Homo sapiens: one gene and its partner. The protein of the gene in region 1 binds, or shares a complex with, the protein of each later gene. Each region holds a gene or a part of one and is shown in the gene's direction. Other genes may lie near its edges.

The links. Proteins that work in one complex are often made in the same cells at the same time.
Region 2: the proteins of DLGAP5 (region 1) and CLTC are in contact, whole or in part, in a crystal structure (PDB 7ZX4), measured with the Homo sapiens proteins. Residues at the interface, in NP_055565.3 of Homo sapiens: Gly833, Asn834, Leu835, Ile836, Thr837, Phe838, Ser839, Pro840, Leu841; in NP_004850.1 of Homo sapiens: Val50, Arg64, Pro65, Ile66, Ser67, Ala68, Leu82, Lys83, Ala84, Thr87, Gln89, Phe91, Ile93, Lys96, Ser97, Lys98.

The regions. Positions count from the first base shown.
Region 1 is NC_000014.9:55,188,580-55,195,639, reverse strand, and holds the start of DLGAP5 (disks large-associated protein 5), read left to right. Parts: upstream 1-4,054; 5' UTR 4,055-4,177; exon of another isoform or gene 4,178-4,571; intron 4,572-6,459; 5' UTR 6,460-6,460; coding exon 6,461-6,698; intron 6,699-7,060. UniProt on the Homo sapiens protein: Potential cell cycle regulator that may play a role in carcinogenesis of cancer cells. Mitotic phosphoprotein regulated by the ubiquitin-proteasome pathway.
Region 2 is NC_000017.11:59,614,962-59,622,909, forward strand, and holds the start of CLTC (clathrin heavy chain 1), read left to right. Parts: upstream 1-4,933; 5' UTR 4,934-5,170; coding exon 5,171-5,212; intron 5,213-7,948. UniProt on the Homo sapiens protein: Clathrin is the major protein of the polyhedral coat of coated pits and vesicles. Two different adapter protein complexes link the clathrin lattice either to the plasma membrane or to the trans-Golgi network.

The DNA.
Region 1 (7,060 bases):
GCTCTGGGGTCCTAGGTAAACCTGAAAGGCAGTCTGAACACAAGGACTGCAAGTCCTAGGCAATTCCTAATGCTAGGCTTGCCTTACAGCCAGTGAACTAGCATGGTAAGTGACCTAGAGTGACACCAGCTGGCACACCTTGTGCCATACCTCCCCAAACCCCAGGCAGTGCAGCTCTCTGCAACAAAGTGACTCTTTCCTTCTGCTTAAGTAGAGGAGAGCAAAGAGTAAAGAGGACTTTGTCTTGTATCTGGGATACCAGCTCAGCCACAGTACGATAGGACATTGAGCAGGGTGATGAGGCTCCCATCCCAGGCCCTAGCTCCTAGACAACATTTCTAGACACACCTTGGGCCAAAAGGGAACCTACTGCCTTGAAAGGAAGGACTCAGTCCTGGCAGGATTCATCAGTCCTTGGGCCCTGAATAGCAGCAATACCAGCGAGTATGCTGTGGGCCTTGGGCTCTGAGATATGCTGGCTTCAGGGGTGACCCAGCACATTCCCAGCTGTGGTGGCTACAATGGAAGACTCCTTCTATTTGAGAAAAGCAGAGGGAAACATAAAGGAGGCTTTGTCTTGCACCTTAGGTACCAGTTCAGCCACAGAGGGGTAGAGCACCAAGAGGGTTCTTGGGGGAGTCCTCGAGTCCAGGCTTAGGCTCTTGACAGCATTTCTGGATCTGCCCTGGGCCAGAGGGGAGCCCACTGCCCTGAAGGGTGAGTTCTAGGCCTGGCAGCATTCACCGCAAGCTGACAGAAGAATGCTTGAGCTTTATGTGATCATCAGCCGTGGCCTGGCAGAAACCCCCATGAACAGGTGGTGGTGGTGGCTATAGGAGAGGCTCCTCTGCCTGTGGAAAGGGAAGGGAAGAGTTGAAAGGGCTTGTATTATGGTTTGAATGCCAGGTTAGCTACAGTAGAATAGAACATCAGGTAGGCCAGGCGCAGTGGCTCACACCTGTAATCCCAGCACTATGGGAGGCCGAGGTGGGTGGATCACCAGGTCAGGAGTTCAAGACCAGCCTGGCCAACATAGTGAAACCCTGTCTCTAATAAAAATACAAAAATTAGCCGGGTGTGGTGGCGGACGCCTGTAATCCCAGCTACTCAGGAGACTGAGGCTGGAGAATCACTTGAATCTGGGAGGCAGAGGTTGTAGTGAGCTGAGATTGCGCCATTGTACTCCAGCCTGGGCGGCAGAGACTCCACCTTAAAAAAATAATAATAATAATAATAAAAAGAACTTCAGGTAAATTGCTAAGATTTCTGACTCCAATCCCTGGCTCCCAGACAGCCCAGCTCTGGGAACAGCCGGGGCCTAGGGGAACTCACTGCCATGATAGGTGCTGGCTTAAGGTCTGATCCAGCACAGTCCCAGTGGTGGTGGCCACAGTGAGCCACCACCCTCAGTTCCAGCTGGCTCAGCAGAGAGAGACATTCCATTTATTTCGGAGCAAGTGAGTGAAAAGAACAAGAGTCTCTGCCTGTAATTCAGAGAATTCTTCCAGATCTTTGCCAAGACTATCAAGGTGGTACCTCTACAAGTCTGAAAAAACCACAGCATTATTAGGCTTGGGGCACAAGTCCCTTCAAACACCCTGAAAGCCTTCCCAAGAAGGACAGCCAAAAACAAGCCCAGATTGTGAAGACTACAATAAATACTTAATTTTTCAATGCCCACACACCAATGAACATCTACAAGCATTAACACCATCCAGGAAACATGATCTCATGAAATGAACTAAATAAGGAACCAGGGACCAATCCTGGAGAAACATAGATATAGGAACTTTCAGGCAGAGAATTCAAAGCAGCTGTTTTGAGGAATCTCAAAGAAAATCAACATAACACAGAGAAGGAATTCAGAATTCTATCAGATAAATTTAACAAAGAAGCTGAAATAATTTAAAAGAAGCAGAAATTCTAGGGTCAAAAAATATAATTGACATGCTGAAGAATGCATCAGAGTTTCTTAATAGCAGAATAGTTTTCTTTTCTTTTTTTTTTTTTGAGACAGGTTCCTACTTTTTTGTCCAGGCTAGGGTACAGTGGTGCGATCATAGCTCACTGTAACCTCAAACTCCTGGGCTCCAGTGATGTTCCCACTTCAGCCTCCCAAGTAGTGGGACTAGAGATGTGCGCCACCATGCCCAGCTAATATTGTATTATTATTATTATTATTATTTGGTAGAGATGGGGTCTTGCTATGTTGCCAGTGCTGGACTTGAACTCCTGGCCTCAACTGATTCTCCCATCTTGGCCTCCCAAAGTGCTGAAATTACAGGTATGAGCCACCATTCTCAGTCTCTTTTTTTTTTTTTTTTTTTTTGAGATGGAGTCTCACTCTGTCACCCAGGCCAGAGTGGAGTGGTGCGATCTCAGCTCACTGCAACCTCCACCTCCTGGATTCAAGCGATTCTCCTGCCTCAGCCTCCTGAGTAGCTGGGACTACAGGCGCGCACCACCACACCCGGCTAATTTTTGTATTTTTAGCAGAGACGGCATTTCACCATATTGGCCAGGGTGATCTTGATCTCTTGACCTCGTGATCCCCCCGCCTTGACCTCCCAAAGTGCTGGGATTACAAGCGCAAGCCACAGTGCCTGGCCAGAAGGGTGAACATTAGAGACTGACAACCCCACGTGCTGGAAAGCATGTGAAACAAGTGGAACTCTTATATGTGGCTGGTGGGAATTGTAAAATGGTACAACCACTTTGGAAAACTGCTTGGCAATTCCTTACAAAGTTAGACATGGGTGACGGCACCCGCCTATAGTCCCAGCTATTCAAGAGGCCAAGGCTGCAATGAGCTATGATTGTGCCACTGCTCTCTAGCCTGGGGGACGGAGAGACCCTGCTTCTAAAAAAAAAAAAAAATTTTAAGTTAAACATACCCAGAATGACCCAGAAATTCCACTCCTGTATTTCCTCAAGATAAATAAAATATGCCCACAAGGACTTGTACGAGAATGGTTATAGCAACTTTGCTCATCATCACCAAAAATTGAAAGCAATACAAATCCATCAACTGGTGAATGCATAAAGTATTCAATGGAATGCCTCTCAATAACAAACACTACTAACTTCTGGTTCACGCAGACCCAAAAGAGTACCTATCACCTTCATTTTTATAGTGCTAGAAATAAGAGGAGTGGTTGCTGATGTGGTGGGAGATGGACAGGAAAGAAACAGGCCACTCTTCTGAGTGATGGAAATGCTCTACGTCCTGATTGGGTGGTAGTTACACAGCTGTTTACATTTACCAAACTCATCAAATTGTCCACTGGGGGGGAAAAACTATTATTTTCACTGTATACGAAAACTTCGCCTCAACAAAAAATGAACTAAAAAAGAAAAAAAAGGGGAGGGGGGCTGGCGACGTTGAAAAGTAACGCTAAACTATGTAAGGATTTGATAATTGGGGTAAGCCTTTTCTTTAAAACGTCTAGTAAAGAAAACATTCCAAGAAGGTCTGCTAGATTCTGTGACTAAACAAGGACATTAAAAAGCCCTGAATCCAGCTTGGTCAACGTAGTGAGGCCCTGTCTCTACGGAATTTTTTTAAAGTTAGCCAGGCGTAGTGGTGCGCGCCTATAGTCCCAGCTACTCGGGAGGCTGAGGTGGGAGGATGGTTTGAACACAGCAGCTCAAGGCTGCAGTGAGCAGTGGTCGGTGCCCACTATACTCCAGCCTAAGGGACAGAGACCTTGTCTCAAAAAAAAGAAAAAAGAAAAAAAAAAAAAGCCTTGCGAGCTCTGGGGGAGATTTCCCGCAGCCCAGCTTTGCCAGGGACCCAGCCTCACCCCTCGGGCTCCACCGCCCACTCCCGCCCTTCACCTGACGTGAGCGCCCCGACTGCTCCACTCCTTCTCATCCCGCGTCGCGGTCCCGCCTATTTTCCCTCTCTCACCCATCTTTTGAACTGGCCCTTCACCTTTCAATCAATTCAAATATCGCACGGAGCAAACCAATCGCAAGCCTCGTTGAGTGGAAGGGGTGGGATCTTCCCCGGAAGTGTTGGTTAAAGCCCCTCCAATCAGCGGCTCGGTGCGGCAAGTTTGAATTTCGTGGAGGCTCGGGTTGTGAGGGTTCCTGCTTCGGAGTCGGCGGTGGTCGTCCAGACCGAGTGTTCTTTACTTTTTGTTTGGTTGAGGTTTCACGCTAGAAGGTGGCTCAGGTAGGTGGGTGCTGGAGAGCTGGACGGAGAACACTGGCCCGCTTCCGTTGAAGGTCTAGAAGGGTCTGAGGACCGGGGGCTGCGAGCGGGAGCAAGTCAGAGGCAGGCTCCTTTAGGACCGTGTTACCTGCCCTTCCCGAAGCTGATAATGCGAGCCTTTAGAAGAGTCCATATGTTTGCCCTGACCTCTGTAATAGTCAGCGTTTCACCACCGGGGCGTAATTGACCTTTGGGGTGAAACTGTTCTTCACTAGCTCCGACATTAAATTCCCGTAGCTCTTCCCAGGTCCCATGGCAACTAAAAACGCCCGGTTGAGAACCTCTAGTCAAGCAAGATTAACGCATTCTGGACTTTCAAGCTGGAGGAAACGCCACTCAGCCAAACAAAATTTAGGTGTGTGTGGAGCCAGGGCTGCCTTGCTTGGGATCCCAGCTTCACCACCTTTTAGATATGCTAATGTGAGCAGTTAATTGACCTCATCTGTATGAGAGCGATAATAGTTAACTACCTTTCAGGGTTATTCTGATAATTGTACCTTTAATGTTGTCCTCGCTCGCTCTTTCTCTTGCTGTGGATAGTGCTATCCTGTATTTAATACATAAGTCTTAATTTTTCTTCAATCTTTAGCGAATTAATATTGCAGGAGATAAATAGTAGAAGACAGTTCTTTATGAAAAGCACAGTCCATTGTCACTTTCCTTGGGTCTTAGAGGAGAATGTTATTAGCATGCAGGTCAGACAGATTCTCGTTTTTTATATTTTGTTGATTGCTTAGAATCATGTAACAATGTATTGCATTACTTGTGCCAATTTTTCTATTATCTGGAGTTTTCTAGTGGATTTAGTTAATTCTTGTTGAAGAATATACCATAGTGTGTCTATCACAGAGCCTCCCCCTTACCTTTTTTTGTTTTTGTTTTTTAACTGCCAAGACTTCTGAGAATCAGTATCCTTTCTCCAGTTTGGCTTGGTAGTTCTCTATACCAGCTACACAGGTGACCCCCTCAAACTTTCTAATTTTCTTTGTTCTCCCTAGTTGGATCTACTGACGTCGTCTTTATTGTCCTCTTTTGTTTTGCTTGAATACATTCTCAAAGATCTTTCCAAGAAAAAGGCATGTGCCAATTAAACTATATGATTTTGTGCGTGTGTGTGTGTGTGTGTGTGTGTGTATGGCTTTTCTTTTTTAAAATTTATAGAGACGGGGTCGTGTTATGTTGCCCAGGCTGGTCTCAAACTCCTGGGCTCAAGCAGTCCTGCCTCGACCTCCCAAAGTGGTAGGATTACAGGCCTAAGCCACCGTGCCGGCCTAAACTGTATGATTTCTTGTATGGATGAAAATAATGGAGCAAACTGATAGGGTTATTGTGAACTATATATTTGGTCTTGTTCTGTTTTCTGGCAAACAACTACTAAAATCCTTGGAGTCTTCAAAGTGGTACCTTTTTGTATGCTAATGATTGACTGATAGCTGGATGCCTCTAAATAGCTTCAGGATTGGGGCTGGTCACTAGACAGACCAAGGCAGGATTTCTCGAGAGTTGGCATTTTCAGCCCCACCTCACAACCTCTGGGGAGGGGAGAGGAGCTGAAGGTTGACTTGATCACCAGTGGTCAATGATTTAATCACTCATGCTTATGTAATGAAGCTGCCATAAAAACCAAAAAAAAACACCTGTGTTTGGAGAGCTTCTTAGGTGAATACATGAAGGTTCCTAAACAGTGGTGCTACCTGAGAGAGCATGGAAGCTCCTTGTTCCTTTCCACATACTTTGCCCTGTGCCTCTCTATCCAACTCTATCTGTATCCGGTTGCCTATTGATTATCCCTATATGACTAATAGGTACCTGGTGTGGGGTTTTTGTTTGTTTTTGGTTTTCTTTTGGCTTTAGAAGAAATGTTAGACTACCTGCATTCCTCATCATGGGTAAGGAAACCCTTGTGTACATGGTCCTTCACTTAACCTATTTTCACCTTTATTTCACGCTTTTCTTTTTGCAGTGTTCTCTGTGGTAAGCCCAGAGCCTCTTTTATTCTGGACTATCACTTACTGGCTTTCTCTTCACTGGTCAAGCAAGTTCCTATTTAAAACCCCCAAATAGGTAGCTTCTTATTCTCTGATAATCTTCTTCTCACTTTTCAGTGTTACATATTTATTTCATTGCACATTTTATATTTTTATTTCAGAAGGCCCTGAAGTGGGACAGGAAATGAACTGTAATCTTAATTTTTTAAATAATGAAAATTCATGTAAGTTGGGTTTTGTCCTTTTCCTTGACAGGATGTCTTCATCACATTTTGCCAGTCGACACAGGAAGGATATAAGTACTGAAATGATTAGAACTAAAATTGCTCATAGGAAATCACTGTCTCAGAAAGAAAATAGACATAAGGAATACGAACGAAATAGACACTTTGGTTTGAAAGATGTAAACATTCCAACCTTGGAAGGTAGAATTCTTGTTGAATTAGATGAGACATCTCAAGGGCTTGTTCCAGAAAAGACCAATGTTAAGCCAAGTAAGTAAAGGTCTGTTGTAATTTTAAGTACTTTGAAGAGTGAATAATAGTTGGTTTAATGCCTGTGTGAGTAAAAAACTCTGGCCAGAAGAGTTTTGAAATACCATTCTATAAATAACTTTCCTTTTTGGTCTTTTTCCTTTTTTTTTTTTTTTTTTTTTTAAATTACAAGAGACAGGGTCTCACTGTGTCACCCAGGCGGGAGTGCAGTGGTGTGCTCACTGTAACCTCAAATTCCTGGGCTCAAGGAATTATCTTGCCTCAGCCTCCCAAAGTGTGGGGATTACAGGTGTGAGCCACCGCGCCTGGCCCCTTAATAACCTGTTATCTACAACTAACTACTGTCTTTAAGGCAAAAGCCT
Region 2 (7,948 bases), on another chromosome or scaffold:
TTTATTATTGAGTTAACCAAAACTTTACCAAATCTCAGTCCTTAGCTATTCTGTTGCGAAGAAGTGAGAGTTTACTACCATTAACAAGGCTGCAGATGTACACTGCTACTGGCAGAACTATCCCTAGAGTGGCAAAACTCTACATTTCCCAAGGGAACATATCTGTGGGTCATGTTTTGCTTTGGAGACAGTAGTAACTCTAGGAGGTGAACACAGAACGTTCTACATATTTAGAAATAGAAAAAAGAAATAGCCCTTAACAATTAATCCCACACTCTCACCCTCATTACCTCTTCATTCTATAGATGCTCTCAAGCTTCTTGTGACTTTTGTTGCAAGATGTTGTGACATGGCATCTGACTCCCTATTGATCAGCAGGGTTAAAATCCTCCTGGGTTTTCCTATCCACAATGTTCTGTGAATTGCTATATTTAAACTAGCTTTTTTTTTTGAGACGGAATCTTGCTCTGTTCCCAGGCTGGAGTGCAGTGGCACACTGTAGAGTGGCAAATGAAGACATATTTATCTGATCCTCTGATATGAAATCCCCTATTAATAAACACCTTTCTTAAAAGTGCTATATAAAAGTATGCTTATAATAGGAATGTTTCCTTTAATTTGTCTAGAATTGAAAGGGAAATAGGCAGGGGGGTTCAAAAAACAAAAGGGAAATTGAAGGCATCCAGAAACTTATTTTATTTTTGAGACCGAGTCTCGCTCTGTCACCCAGGCTGGAGTGCAATGGTGTGATCTCGGCTCACTGCAACCTCCACCTCCCAAGTTCAAGCGATTCTCCTGCCTCAGCCTCCCAAGTAGCTGGGATGACAGGCACCTGCCACGGTGCCTGGCTAATTTTTGTATATTTAGTAGAGGTGGGATTTCACCATGTTGGCCAGGCTGGTCTCAAACTCCTGACCTCAGGTAATCCGCCCGCCTCGGCCTCCCAAAGTGCTGGGATTACAGGCTGAGCCACCATGTCCTGCCTAAACCAACTTTTGTGAAATGGCTTTTTAAGGTAATGTCATGAACCACTTCATTCCTCTGCCAGGGTCTTATTTAACCCTTCAAAAACATGGGTGGGCCCTATATAATGTGACTTCATTCTACATTGGATCCCCACAAAGCTAGTCTTGGCTTTTCACTTGGAACATGCCCAATGCTGATACAAAGTAAAGATTCACTATAGATCTTATTGCTATCCATCGTACGTTATAAAACTTGTCTAAATATTTAAAGGTTTAAAACAAGCCTGCGCAGTGGATGTCAAGAGTAAAGTACGTTTCATAGTAAAATTAAAATGCCATTAAAATTTTGTTCTTGTGGGGCTGGGTGTGGTGGCTCATGCCTGTAATCCCAGCACTTGAGGAGGCTGAGGCAGGCAGATCACCTGAGGTCAGGAGTTCAAGACCAGCCTACCCAACATGGTGAAACCCCTGTCTCTACTAAAAATACAAAAATAAGCCAGGCATGGTGGCTGGTGCCTGTAATCCCAGCTCCTCGGGAGGCTGAGGCAGGAGAATTGCCTGAACCCAGGAGGCGGAGGTTGTGGTGGGCCGAGATCACACCATTGCAGTCTGGCCTGGGCGACAAGAGCAAGACTCCGTCTCAAAAAAAAAAAATTGTTCTTGCTTTGTAAATGCTGCTTTCTTTTCTTCATTTTGGAGCGGGGAGCCTTGCCGATAGTCAGTGACTTGTACATTTGTTTACTGGCATTTGATAGGCTGCTCCTTATCTTGCATGAAAAAATAAAGACCTAGCCAGTCTAATCCTGCTGGGATTCATATCAGTGGCCCCAGGGGGTTGAGATGCTTCAAAGCTACTGTTTAAATGGCAAAACCAAGTATCTTACTTGGATAATACTAAAGTATGTCCTTTATGGCTTTATTGGAATCTGAATTGTAAACATTTGGTACAGTGGATTAAAGTTCTGCTTTAAAATTAATTTCTGAGTATGTGAGATATGCCTTTTCTTTGTGACTTTTGCAGTGCAGTGAATTCAGGCTGTTTTTAAAAGGTCAAGTTTTTAAAAGGCAGGGGCATTAGTGCTAGGGCTGCTTGAAGATGAACAGCTAATGGAGAAATCCTACAGTGAAAGGGGTTGTTTTTTTTTTTGTTTTTTGTTTGTGTTTTGAGGTGTCATTCTATTGAGTGTTTATATATATATATATATATATATATATATATATGTATATATCTCCATCCTAATTGTTGGCATAACATTAAAATTAGTGACACAACACAGGTTTCTTGTATAGGTTTTCAGAAACTAGCAGTCCTCAAAATAACAGACCAAGCAATGTAGTTTTTGCTAATGGCACTTGCTGTGACTCATGATAGTCTACTGTTGATGAGCATTCCAACTAAAATAGCTTTCACTTCACCATTGATTAACATGGCTACCTTGCTAAAACATTTTCTGAAACCAAAAGCTAGAGTGATCATTCATAGCATTGTCTTATTAAAAGACTATGTCATACTGTATCGTAGAAAAAGCCATTCTGGGTAGTAGGATTTGCTTCCTGGTCTATTAGGTTATCTGTTCTCCCTTCTAACTTGAGGTAATGTCTGAAAACAGTGCCATTCAGGTATTGCTTAGGTAACTAAACCAGTGAAACCAGTGAAACTGCCTTTATACTGTTACCAAGAACAGCAGACTCCCATTAAAAAAAAAAAAAAACTCTTATTACCCTACTCAAATTATTCATCTTTAAAAAGGCATAGGGTTTTTTTTTAATGTTTATCATCTTGACTTTTTTTTTCTCTTGAAAATTTTTGGATTAATTTGAAGATCATTTCAAAATGACCCAGGATATCACGATCTATTTTTCCTCTTCCTAAATTATTTCTCAAAACAGTGTAATTTCTATGTGTGATGACGTAGCAGTCACTAACAACCTCAGCGCACTTTTTGGTTAGATATTCCACTCCAAATAGCTAAAATCAACTGCTTTTGGGATTCTAAATGTACTTAAAGTTACAGGGTCTGTATGAAAATGCCAGACACTAATTAAATTTTGGTGGCCCATTCATGATACGGCTCTTTTATCTCCGGATTCTGAGATTGAAAAGGTGACTTGATCAAGCTATTGAATTACTGTAATAAAACAATTACTCCCTTAGAATTTTAATTTAGAATTTGTCTACTTCCAAAAAGGGTTTAAAGCAGTTATTACTAGACTGGCATTAGGTTATTTCAAATGTTGCGGAACAGAGGATCTTCGTGTATTTAGCTTAACAATACAAAAAGAAATTTTGCAAGCATAAATATTCACTCTTACAACATGGTGGCAAGGCTTTTCTTTGCAGAACAATCTTTGCCCTCTTACCTGCCAGACTCTTCTCTCATGCTCAGTATGTGAGACAGTTAAGTAAAGGGAAAAACACTAAAAGCAACTAAAATGATTGGCAAACTTCTCACTGTAACCTAAACTGCTTAGCATACAAAACTATCGTCTACCCAATAGGGTTTTATGTCCTTTAACTGAAAAGGACACTAAAAATAATTATTGTGGACTTGAGCTTTTCTCTTTCGGCGGGGCGGGGGGTGGGGGGGGAGAATCACCTCTCTTACAAAGATAAAAGGCACAGAACTAACGTCTTTCATCCTTTATTGTATTGGTGCGATTATGAAATATTATTATGGCTTATACTTTAGCAAGAAAGTACCAGAAAGGTTATTATTAATCGACAATGAATGCCGTTGATACCTTCATGCTCTTTGAAGACAGGATGCTCCGGCTTTGAAGCGCTACATTTCTACATTGCTAACCTACAGGAACCTATGTTGAGGTGGTCCCACCGAAATACACGGCTAATAGTTCATCTCTTTCCTCCAGGAACCTTCAGGTTTTTTTTTGTTTGTTTTTTTTTTGAGACGGAGTCTCGCTCTGTCGCCCAGGTTGGAGTGCAGTGGCGCGATGGAACCTTCGGGTTTTACTAAGCATCCTTACCCTAATTATCTAAATCTTTGAGACGTAAATTATTTGATGTGGCTAAAAATCCTCCTGCTAGAATTTAGGTCCAATCCTTTAATGTTCGGATACTCAAATTCTTTAACGAAACTGATCACTGAGCTAGGCCGACACAAGTCCGCCAAAATGTCCGCAGAAACGTTAAGAAAAGCTGTCATAAGGCCAGCTTGAAAGACATCATAAAAGGCCTTCGCTGTCCTTTGAGTTAATTATCTAACACCCGAAGAGAGTGCCAGTTCTAGTTAGAATCCGCGCGTCAGGTTCTCCAACAGTCAGAAGGGCTTGTGTGAGGGCAGGGAAGATTTTAAACCCCGTTTCAGGCCCCCTCCCTAGGCTGTAGGAAACCACCCACTCTGAAGCCCGGCGGGGGAGGAGTGCTGCAGCCAGCTGCCGAGGGAGCGCTCTGCGGCGAGGCCGTTTCCCTGAGTCACGGAGAGGGCGGGAGGCTGCGCCCGTCTGCCCCCGCCACGTCCTCCTGTGAGGGGCTCAGTCGAAACAGGCAGCGGTCGCAGGGAAACGAAGCGGCACCCGTCATGCCTCAAGGTGGCCCAAAAGCCTCTTCACTCCCAGGAGACGCCGCATTTCCTTAAAACGAGCTCTCCATTTCTGGCAGCAATCAGCCGACCCTTCCCCATCAGTATCACGTGCACCTGGAAGTACGTGGGTGGGACCTAAAGCGCCCACGGAAGTGACGTCGGTCGCCCCGAGTCGCATGATGTGGCAAAATGAAAAAAAAAAAGTGGGGGGAGAAAGAGAAGACTGGCGAAAGTGATGAGTCTAAAAAAGTAGTCCCTCCGGTTCCTCTGTTTCCCCCCATGTGGCGTCAGGAAGCGAGGCACCGGGCGCACTGCGCCCCGAATTCCTGCGCCCGCCGCGCGCGGCGCTCCGTGGAGGGGTACATAAGGCGGAGGGGGTGAGGCGACTGGGCGGAGTTCTGTCGCCGGGATCCTTCCGCTGGGCTCAGCCGTTTCCGGAGTCTGCGCTGCGCCCGGTTCCGCCATTGCGGCTCTCCTGGCCCCTGGAGCCTCCGCCCCCGACCCGAGCTCTTTCGTCTGCCTGCCAGTTTCCTGCGTCCCCGGAGAGGATCCTGCTGAGCCCAGCCTCCCCCCTCCCCTTCTCCTCCTCTCCCTTGGAGAGCCCGGGCAGCCACTGCCCCGCAGCCCCAGTGACAGGAGGAGACCATAACCCCCGACAGCGCCATGGCCCAGATTCTGCCAATTCGTTTTCAGGAGCATCTCCAGGTGCGGCCGGGCCCGGGCTGGTGAGGGCTGTGGAGAAGGTGGTAGGAAGGATGGAAGACGCTGGAGTCTGGGCCCGAGCAGTATCGGAGCTGGAGGGGCGGGGGGGTTGTCGGTGATTGGGGTAGGTGGAGGAGGGGGCACTATCTTGGAAAGCTTAAAATATTAAATGATGTGGGGCTTGGATGGAAAGGACAGGAGTTGGGGTGCAAAGAGCTGCAAGGACCAGGCCTGGATCCAAAGGCCTCTCGATCTTGCTTCCTGGATGGCCAGAACTGCGCGTACAAACTCTCTCCCCATTTTATTCATTTCATTCATTTGGGTAGGGGAGTGGGAGGGGGATTCTCCCTTGTTTCTACCAGAGCAAGGATTCTTATCCCCTGGGCCAGTGCGGGGCTGTCACCTTCCATTGCTCTCCTCTTTCCCTCATCGTGTCTGCACCCAGGAGTTGTGGGGCGGGTGGGTTGGGGAGGAGCAACCTTTTTTTTCCCTCCCTCTGCGGCTCTCAACTGAGAAAGGCACCTTCTCCGGTGGTGGGGGTTGGGGGTGGTGGTGAGGCGGTGGCTTTTCTCTTGCCTTCCCTGAGGCAGTAGGGACAGAAGGTCACTGAAAGAACGGAACGAGGGTAGAATGGGAGAACGCATTTCTTAGAGCTATGTCAATCTCAGAGTGTGTGCGGTCAAACTCCCTAAGGAAACTCGCCTCCCCTTCCCCCTTTTTTTATTTCTCTGGGGATGTTGTGGCTCTTAACCCCTCTTTGGTTCTGGAAGGTAGGAAAGAGTGATACAGAGGTTATCTTTTAGTCTTCTCGAGTAGTAGCAGGTAGTTTTGAATATCTTCTTCAGGATCGCATGGAATTGAACAGAGCCCTGGGGACAGCACAGCTGCTCTGAGACCTGCAGGGCTATTTGGTCTGTGACTGGCTTCCCTTTAGTAAGTTCTAGAGTTCTTCCCCATGGTTCCTTATCCTGGAGGCAACATATTGTTATCTGGCAACATGCCAGTGGCGGGCCTAGGCAGGTGACCATTGGAAGGCTTCACTGAATTAAACCTCTTCAGAGCTTTTGATTTTCCTGTGTCACCAATCCTGTTTTTTACTGTAGCTTAAATAATTTATTCCTATTAATTTGCTTTCTTCCCAAATATCCCCTTAAAGAAACCTGCCTCAGCTCAGTCGTCTGAAGGGCTAATTCCATAATGACAGGGAATGCAGTGGTTTGACATGACACTGATATCAGTGACCTATTAGACACTTTACCATTGAAGACCATTTTTATTTACATTTCCCCATTGGCATAGCATACATAAAGGATTCTTGTTAATAAAAGGTTTTAACATTCAGGCTATAAGTAACATAATTTCATATTTCTTTGCAAGTATTACCATGTTTGCACTAGCAAGGACTTATTTTCCTTTAAGGCTTGAAATGTAAAGAATAATAAATTTTTACCCATAAAATGAGTTAAATAATGCACTTTCCTCAGTCATCTATAATTTTCAAATAACTCATCTGAAGTAATGGAATATACCTTGGCAATAAAAACACTTTTACAGAGGGTTAAAAATGTTAAATAACAAAATGGACATTTTTTTTTGATCAATCCAAGTTTAGTTGCTGTGGTTGCTTTTGTTAAAGTGGGGTGGCAAATGAATGTGGAGAGTTGAGGGGTGCTGTTCTTAAGTGTGAGGGGAAAACGCGGGCTTATTTTCATATTAAACTGCATCTGAAATATCTTTCTGCAGACAAATGTTTATAAACCACACAGAGAATCAAGTACAGCTGCTCTTTATTTTCCACGGCAGATGTGTAGCTCACTACTAAATCTTGTGGTGGTTGGAGTAATAGCTTTTCATTTCTTTTAAAGAGGAGACAAGAATTGTTAAATGATCCCAAAGATTCGAACCCAACCTTGTCACTTATTAAAGACAAATTTAATACATGTCTGTTTTGTAACTGGATCAAAGTTTCTGCAGATGCTTGAATGAAGCCATTTTCTTCTCAAATAATTTGAAGATTTTGAATATAAAGCGATTTGCAAATTGAAAAATTCAGTCCTCTGTGTTTTGGATTGCTATGTCATGCCTAAACTTAAGCTTGCTTAGCTAATATGACTGTGCTCCAGTTGATTAATTGTGGAGCCCAAATAACTACAGCCTCTTTCATGATAATATATCTCCTAACTTCATATCATTATCTCCTCCCTTTTTAAAAATTAATAAGCATTTTGTTTTTTTGAGGAGACAGGGTTTTTGCTGGAGGTCAGTGGCACCATCACAGCTCACTGCAGCCTTGACCTACTGGGCTCAAGCCATCCTCCCACCTCAGCATCCTGAGTAGCTGGGACTACAGCCATGAGCCACCACACCTGGCTAATTTTTGTATTTTTTGTAGAGATGGAGTTTCATGTTGCCCAGGCTAGTCTCGAATGCCTGGGCTCAAGCAATCCTTTGCCTTGACCTCCCAAAGTGCTGGGATAATAGGTGTGAACCACCGAGCCCAACTAATAAGGATTATTTTAATTGGCATCTTTGGTCTTTGACCTCTGAGCTTCTACCAGTTTGCTAAGTAGCAGAAAACTTTCTGAAACACGTAGGATAAAAACTGGAAACAAGAAATGGGGAACTTAAGTGTGAGTGTAGAGTTACCTTGTGAAACTGTAAATGAACTTATTTTTATACCCTTTAACTACATTGTCCAACTGAAGGATCTCTTGTCATCAAAGCTTGGACCTACAGCAA